2 linked regions of the Homo sapiens genome follow. The protein of the gene in region 1 purifies or fractionates together with the protein of each later gene. This does not show direct contact. Each region holds a gene or a part of one and is shown in the gene's direction. Other genes may lie near its edges.

Evidence for each region.
Region 2: the proteins of ACADL (region 1) and ACTR3B purify together in Homo sapiens (affinity purification with mass spectrometry; one large-scale study listed by BioGRID and IntAct). This does not show direct contact.

Annotation. Positions count from the first base shown.
Region 1 is NC_000002.12:210,194,146-210,197,962, reverse strand, and holds part of ACADL (long-chain specific acyl-CoA dehydrogenase, mitochondrial precursor), read left to right. Parts: intron 1-2,624; coding exon 2,625-2,752; intron 2,753-3,817. UniProt on the Homo sapiens protein: Long-chain specific acyl-CoA dehydrogenase is one of the acyl-CoA dehydrogenases that catalyze the first step of mitochondrial fatty acid beta-oxidation, an aerobic process breaking down fatty acids into acetyl-CoA and allowing the production of energy from fats.
Region 2 is NC_000007.14:152,758,156-152,762,615, forward strand, and holds the start of ACTR3B (actin-related protein 3B), read left to right. Parts: upstream 1-1,596; 5' UTR 1,597-1,727; coding exon 1,728-1,771; exon of another isoform or gene 1,772-1,897; intron 1,898-4,460. UniProt on the Homo sapiens protein: Plays a role in the organization of the actin cytoskeleton.

The DNA of each region.
Region 1 (3,817 bases):
TTAGTAACGCTCAACCCAATGGCAAGAATATGTAAATATTTAATCTTTTTATCCTCAGAGAGTAAATTATGTACTCTTGGAGACATTATTCTCTCAGACCTCTGGACTTCACTGAATGCACTGATGCAAGAATTCTAAATCATTCCATTCTGGTTTGAAGTTTTACTTCAGCTTCTAGAAGTTTCCAGCATTTACAAAGGAATGACTCTTGTATGAGAGAATCAGGCTTAGATATCTTTACTCTTTCATATTGTAAAGACAGTGCATAAATTCCCAAATGTGGCATCATGTAGGCAAAAAAATATCTTGAGACTTGTTGGATCCACCCTTATTTTCCAAATAAAGTGTCATACATAGTGTCATTGAACTAAACTAGGAGTAGGCTTAGAAACCATCTTCAGGGATTTTCATGGAATACTCATCTGTTTTCGATATATAGATTATTTGCCTATTTTTTTCTTTTTTTGTTCCATCTTTATATTGTCTAAGAGTAAACTTCAATGTGTGGGTTGGGAGTGGGAAACTTTGTGCTGATTAAAGGGTAGATATTTGACCTAATTAAATATATGATGAATAGAAATGGAGATAGAAAAAATTAAGGGAAACAATAAGCGGGGAAGAAAGTTTTGATGTGACCCAGCATGTTCAGAACTAGAGGCCAGAATACAGAGATGGAAGGAGTGGGGTGCCAACCTTCTCATTGCTTAGTTTTGGAATCATTCGATGCCAGTTACATTCTCTGTTTCTAGAACAGGGTGAAATAAAACCAGGGGAAAGACAGTCAGTTGGAGTTTTCATCAGCACAGTAGTTATGTTGATATACCTGTAAGGAATCTGCCCCTCAGAGCTTTACTCCACCTGATACACCCTGGTCTTGCTTGGTCCTGGGTCTTTTTACACTCCCATTCTACTCTTTTCCAGAAATGGTAAGTATCAAAACTGTCCCAACCAACAATGACAGTGAAAGAATCAGTTTTATAACTTGAGAATTGCTGTAGCCAGCATTAAAAGCAGACCATGTATCTTCTGAGAATGTGTCCCACCACCCTCCTTTGAGAACACAGCTGTGGCTTTGGACTTGGTAGTACCTAGGTGGGATGTGTTTAATTTCTAGTTTGAGTTTCACTGCACCACCTTTGCCTGTAACTTTCCATGTATATGCTATTAGCCACAGTGAAGTTCTTACTCATTTCACAGCAGAATGATCAGAACTGTTTCTATCTGAATTTTCACAAAGAAGATAGGCCAGCTGACCATATCTGGGCCTTGGACCTAAGAAATCAACTAGAATGGAGTATACTTTTGGAGCTACCCAAAGTGGGAACCCAGTATTTCAAGTTCAAGCCAATTTCCTGAGGGAGGCTCAAGAGTCAGTGCCAAAGAGAACAGATATACACTCCAAGTTCAGAGTGTGAGAGCCTAGAGTCAGGAATGAAATAAAGCTTGATTGAAGCAAGGACAGTCAGCAACAATTGAGAATGGTCTAAATAGAATGATTTCCAAAAATGCTAATGGGTTGTCCATGGCCAGTAGGAGGAGGTAGGTACATAGCTATATTAACATTGATAATCCCAGACCATTCAGTCCAAGCTAGAGACTGCTAAACAAGCTATTGAGAGGTACGGGAGGTGTATTCATCCATTTTCATACTGCTATGAAGAAATACCTGAGACTGGGTAATTTATTAAAAAAAAAAAAAGAGGTTTAATGGACTCACAGTTCCACATGGCTGGGGAGGCCTCATAATCATGGCGGAAGGTGAAGGAGGAACAACAGCACATCTTACATGGTAGCAGGCAAAACAGCGTGTGCAGGGGAACCACTCTTTATAAAACCATCAGATCTCATGAGACTTACTCACTATCACAAGAACATCATGGGACAAACCCACCCCCATGATTCAATTATCTCCCACCACGTCCCTCCCACAACATGTGGGGATTATGGGAGCTACAATTCAAGATAAGATTTGGGTAGGGACAGAGCCAAACCATATCAGAAGGGATAATGTGAAGGGATGAAAGAGGATGAGGGTACTGGATTTTGATCTCTTTAGTACTCTGATTTTATTCTATTGCTTTCTACAGATCTAGATTAAATACTGTGCAATATTAAATAATACCTTATATTTTGATGTTTATGAACATATATAGAAACCCCTTGTCCCTCCAGATGTTAGAAGCAGAGTAGCAAAATCTGTATACTTAATTTCATTAATAAAGAAAAAAATCTTCAAGGATTTAATCTCTGGAGGAAAAAGCAACAGGTGTTTTCAACGGCTGTACCTAAATAACTGTACCACAAGATGGTGCTCACACATTAAAGTCATGCTGTTTTTCAAGAATTTTGCCTCGTCTAAATTTTACAATCTGAAACAAGACATTGTTTATGTTTTAAACTATTTTTGCATCTTTTAGTACAAATTTCCTTAGCACTGAAATATAGTGAGTTTTAAATTTAAGCTGATTTGGTAACAAATGCCATTTTTATGGAGGAAAAAACCAACAATTCCACTTTTGTTTGCCCTAAAGATCTTTTATTGTATAATTTCTGATATGTTAAGTGGGTTGAAGTTTATATTTCTACCATGCTCACTTTTTTCTTTTATTTCCTTTAAATTCAAGACAGTGCAACATAAATTAGCAGAATTAAAAACACATATATGTGTAACCCGAGCATTTGTGGACAACTGTCTCCAGCTGCATGAAGCGAAACGTTTGGACTCCGCCACTGCTTGCATGGCGAAATATTGGTATGCATGCTACAGTAATTAGAGTGCGGTGTGTGCTCAGACTGATATGGAATTCTGCCAATTTTAAGCTCAGCCTTGAGGGTCTTAAAGGAAGAAATCTGTGAAATGAAAAATAAAAGTGAGACTCCACTTTAAAAAAAAATGCTAAAAAGTTCCATTAAGCATATGTATAATGTGCTAAAAATGTTTCAAGTTGGTATTTAATTTTTTTATCCTAATAGGCAAGCAAAGTTAGTATTTAATTCTTAACTTGCTATTGAAAATAAAATATTAAGAGTGGGAAAATGAAGAGTGATATTGATAGGATGACTGATTCATTCATTCAAGTAATAGTTTAATTTCAAATTATCTGAAGAGTGGCAGTATAGTGAGGCTGAAAGGGAACAGTAAAACTTAGGAGTCTTGAGATAGAGTCCAAATTCTTTTATTAAATAACTATAATTAAACTTAATTCCATCCAGGAAAATGTTTTTGTTATCTGTGAAATGACTAAGTTGGACAGGATTTTTCTATTTAAGGTGCTTTCCAATTTTAAGAAAAAATTCAGGAAGAACTGGCTGTCCAATCAAAGTTTCACAGGCTCTATTAAGTGAAAGGAGAATAAAAATCCTATTAAGTTTAGAAAGACTTCGATTTGAATTAAAGATTATTAGCAATGGTGTTAAAGATGAGTTGAATGAAAAAACATCCCTGTATGTCAGACTTTTGTATATTTTAAGATTTTAGAATATACAGTCTAAATCAGATTCTGGAAGTAGATTTGGTTTCCTCTTTTTAAAAACAAACATTCTCCCATATCATTAGCCCAAGAGTAACTTAGAATAAATTCCTGTCATTATTCATTAACTTGTGTTCAGTTCAATCACAGGTAGAACAGGGGAAATATTTTGTGCTTTATATAATGATCCCATAATAACAAAATTGCCAGGTTGAAAAATAATGTGGAATTACTTTTCAGAAACTTGCACTTTTGAGGAGACTTTTTATATTTACATTTACAAGAAGTTCTTTGACTAGTGGCAAAAAGTGTAAAAAAAATTTACATATTTTTGGAAAAAGAGAAGT
Region 2 (4,460 bases), on another chromosome or scaffold:
TATGAGTTAAAAAAAAGAAATGATGATGGGTTACCTAGGAGTGGTCAACGTATCTATTACTTCTAGGTAAAAAACACAATGTTTTAAGTACCTGTAAAAACAACATGTCTTGGCTGGGCGTGGTGGCTCATGCCTGTAATCCCAGTACTTTGGGAGGCTGAGGCAGGCAGATCACGAGGTCAGGAGCTCAAGACCAGTCTGGCCAGCATGATGAAACCCTGTCTCTACTAAAAATACAAAAAATTAACCGGGCATGGTAGTGGGTGCCTGTAATCCCAGCTACTTGGGAGGCTGAGGCAGGAGAATTGCTTGAACCTGGGAGGCGGAGTTGCAGTGAGCCGAGATTGCGCCACTGCACTCCAGCCTGGGCGACAGAGTGAGACTCATCTCAAAAAACAAAACAAAACAAAAAAATACATGTTTCCAGAAAGCTCCTAAAAAATTAGTATCAAGAATTTACGATCGGGCAAGAAGCAGGAAGCAAGTGGCAAGTGGGACTCTCAGTACCTTTATAATATAGTAGGTGGTGTTTGCCTTCTTTGGTTTCAGTAAGAACTTTTGGGCGATCATCCCATCTTCGACACTTGAAAACATTTTCCAGGAGTGATCTTGGTGTGGTTTACTCAGTCTAAGGCCATTCATTCCTTAAGGCTGGCCAAGCATTTGTTTTGCAGATTTTTCTTCTTAGAAAAATTTAGGCCGTGTTAGGTATAATAATTCCAACTAATTTTTTTTGTTGTTTTTTTGAGACAGACTCTCGCCCTGTTGTCCAGGCTGGAGTGCAATGGCGCGATCTTGGCTCACTGCAACCTCCGCCTCCCAGGTTCAAGCGATTCTCCTGCCTCAGCCTCCGGAGCAGCTGGGATTACAGGCACCCGCCACCACGCCCGGCTAATTTTTGTATTTTCAGTAGAGAAGGGGTTTCACCATGTTGGCCAGGCTGGTCTGGAACTCCTGACCTTGTGATCCACCCTCAGCCTCCCAAAGTGCTGGGATTACAGGCGTGAGCCACCGCGCCCGGCCAATTCCAACTAATTTTTTTTTTTTTTTTTATTATATGGGGAAGGTTACTCAGTCATTCAACAAACATTTGGGCACTTCCACAGGTACACCAAATACTGTGCTAAGCACCTGCTGCTCATCAATAGTGATTAAGACAGACTCAAGCCCTATCCTAGAAGATTTGATAGTCCAGTAGGGGAGGCAGACAACAAATACATAAATATAAAAATATAAACACTTTGCTTTAAGGGTTAGGAATGAAACCAACAGATTGTTGAGACAGAGGATACAGTACCGGTAGGGGACATAGTCAGGGTGATCAGGAACAACTTCCCTCGCAAGGTGACATTCGAGCGAAGACTTACAGGAGGAGAAAGGCGCCAGGCCTCGGAAATGGGGTCACGTTCATGTAAGTCAGTTAAAAATAAACCCCAATCTCTCCAGCAGCAAGGTTGGACGTATGGGGCCAAGAAGCCTCGCTGCCAGCACTAAAGATGGCGCGCCGGAGTGGGGGTGGGGGTGTTGGGGGAGGCGGGGCGTGCGCGCGTTCTGATTGGCCGACCGGGGAGTGACGTCACGTGTCGGCCGCCGAGCATCCGGGCTCCCGGCAGCGGCGCTGCGGCGGCTCGCGGGAGACGCTGCGCGCGGGGCTAGCGGGCGGCGGAGCGGACGGCGACGGGGCGCTCTCGGGCTGCCGGCGGGGCCGAGCGCCGCGCGTCCCGAGCATGGCAGGCTCCCTGCCTCCCTGCGTGGTGGACTGTGGCACCGGGTAAGAGCAGCTCGGCGCCCACCCCCGCTCCTCCGCGGCCCCGCTCCCGGCCCCTGGCGTCCACCTCGCCTGGAGGTCGAGCTGCGTCCGTCGCCCCGGGCTTGAGCCCCGCGATCACCTGGGCAGGTGGGGCGCCGGCCGCCGCTTCCCTCCAAGCCTTGCCTTGACGTCGTAAAACCCCCTCTTCCCTGCCGGGAAGGGCCACAAGAGGAAAAGCACGGAGGGTAGGGACGCGGTGCCCACTCTGAGCGAGCCCGGCGCTCCTCGCCTCCCCCGCCCACGTGGCCGGGCCCCTGGACCCGCAGCCCGGCTCCGGCCGTCGCCGGGGTGGACACCCTGAGGGACACCGGGAGCGCGGGATCTCCCCTCCTAGGAATATTCGCCAGCGTGAGGCACAGATCATCACTGCAGATCCTTTAACGTCACTCATCTCCTAGTGAACGGTGTCCCTGCCTTCCAGCGTTCTCAGCACTGGCCCTCGTTCTGTCCCCGCGTGTGCGTGTCATTCCTCCTGGCTGAGGATTCTTTACCACCTACTTGTGGAGAGAATAGCATCGATCTCCCAACTTGATACCATTTTTACTGCCCTCCCTGCGCTTTTCCAGTATGAAATGGCACACTCAGGCCAAGCTGTCCCTTTGGTTTGCATAGATTTGCCTTTTCGCTGAAAAATGATGTGTTTAAAAAGACTCCATTTTGAAAAATACCCTAAATTTGGGAGAGCATGTTTGTGGAATTGTGGTAGAGGTTTTTGTTTTTAACTTTTTGAGTGTGACCACTTCTTTCGTTGCCGTTAAGCTATTAAAAAGAGATCTTAGGAAATGCCCTGAAGTATCGGTGACCCAAGTTAGCTGGTTGTAGTAAGGTGATTGCTGAATCCATGTAGCTGGTAGTTTGGGAATACAAGCTTGCCTGCCTGCGTTATGGGTGTAGTGCTTAGTAAAATAGCCTGGAAGTAAATTTGGTCTCTTAGCGATTTTTTTCAAGAAGGGATTTTAATCATTTTTGCCACAAAATGTAACATGGCATGTTCACCTTACCCTTGATTCTTTTCTATAGAAAAATGCACTTGGTTTGGTTTCCTTGACAACCTTGTGGGGGTGCCTTCTTTAGTTTGCTACAGTCCATCTCCTACTGTTAGTTCCTTCCTTTTGCTGCTGAAGCGACCAGAAGTGGTTGTGGACTGGAAAAATCCTCTTTGCTTGTGTGAATTCTTTTTGAAATACACGTCATATCAAGCTTTGTAGCTCTTTATTTTAGAACTTGCTTTTCTACCTAAAACACAAGCCAAAATCAGCGTTGTCGATACTACAGCTCCCCTCCCTCAATTATTGACACCCTTAACTCATGCCCTCCCCCAATGGGTTCACCTCAGGTCCCCTCAGGTCTGGTTGTGTCAAGAGTGAAACCAGTGGGTGAAAGTATTTTTCATTTCCACATTTGCATGTGAGATTTTTGCTTTGTAGTTTTAGTCTTGCAGAACTATTAAAATATAAAGGAATTCTTGGTAGTAGCAATAAAATAATGCTCACAGAGTTGTCATACCTTTAAGATTAGTAAGTCGTGGACCTTACTCATCTTTCTTGCTATAAATACCTAAAATGTCGTGCTCAGTTTTGACCTTTTGAGGTAAGTGATTAATGTAACTTGGCTAACTTGGAGATTCAACTTCTATAGATCATTGTTTTGTGGCCCAAAGTCATGCTTCAGAAGTTGGTGTCAAGACTTAGAAACGGTGGCAGGGAATCTCCATATGAATTCCCCATATCGAGTGTATGGCCAGAAGGAGCCTGAAAGAGCCCGAATTTACCAACTTGAGCACATCAGTAGTTCTTACATTTCCCAGAGAGCCAAAATGATTTTTGGATTTAGTTTTGCCTCAAAATAGGACAAAAAGTGGTAAAATTCAGATAAAAATAACCAAGCCAAAGGAAAAGAACGGACCTAGGAAGTCACCCTGAGCTTTAGCCCAGTGGCTGCTGAAGTTGGTCCGCACATTCGACCTTAGTCTTCCTGTCTGACAACATCATAAGAGTCATGGTTATGTAATTCCTGTCATCAGAAATCAAGAGAAATACCTGTTTCTTGGGTGAAAAAAGCCTTTTTTTGTAGTACTAAATTGTAAAAGCATTGAGCTATACATAGTGGGCACTAATGATTTATTGGACAGTGTGATAAACAGTATTTTTTACAAATAAATTTCATCCCAGTATCCTTGAATCCTCCTCAGGTAAACCCCGAGACTACCTGAGTAAGCAGTGATGTGCTGGAGGCCAGGATAATATGGACAAAGGGATCTGCTGAGTCCAAAAATAAAGCTTCATCTATTTAAAGGGATGACTAGGCTGCATAGTTTTCAGAGAATATTTCACAACTCCGGTCTCACTTCTCTGAGCCAAACTTTTCAAATGAAGTCTTTTGCATTTTTCAACTTTTTTTGAAATAATTTCAAATCTACTGAAAGCTGGAAGAGAACAAAAAACTACTGTATACTCTTCTTCCAGTTTTACCAACTGTTAACATTTGCTTTGTCACTCTCTGTATGTCCATACATATTATTATTACTTTCCTGCACTGTTTGAGAGTAAGTTGCAGAGATCATACCCTTTTATATCAAAATACTTGAATGCGTACTTTCTGAGGACACATTTTCCCTTCTAGAATCACATTCCAATCATCAAAATCAGAA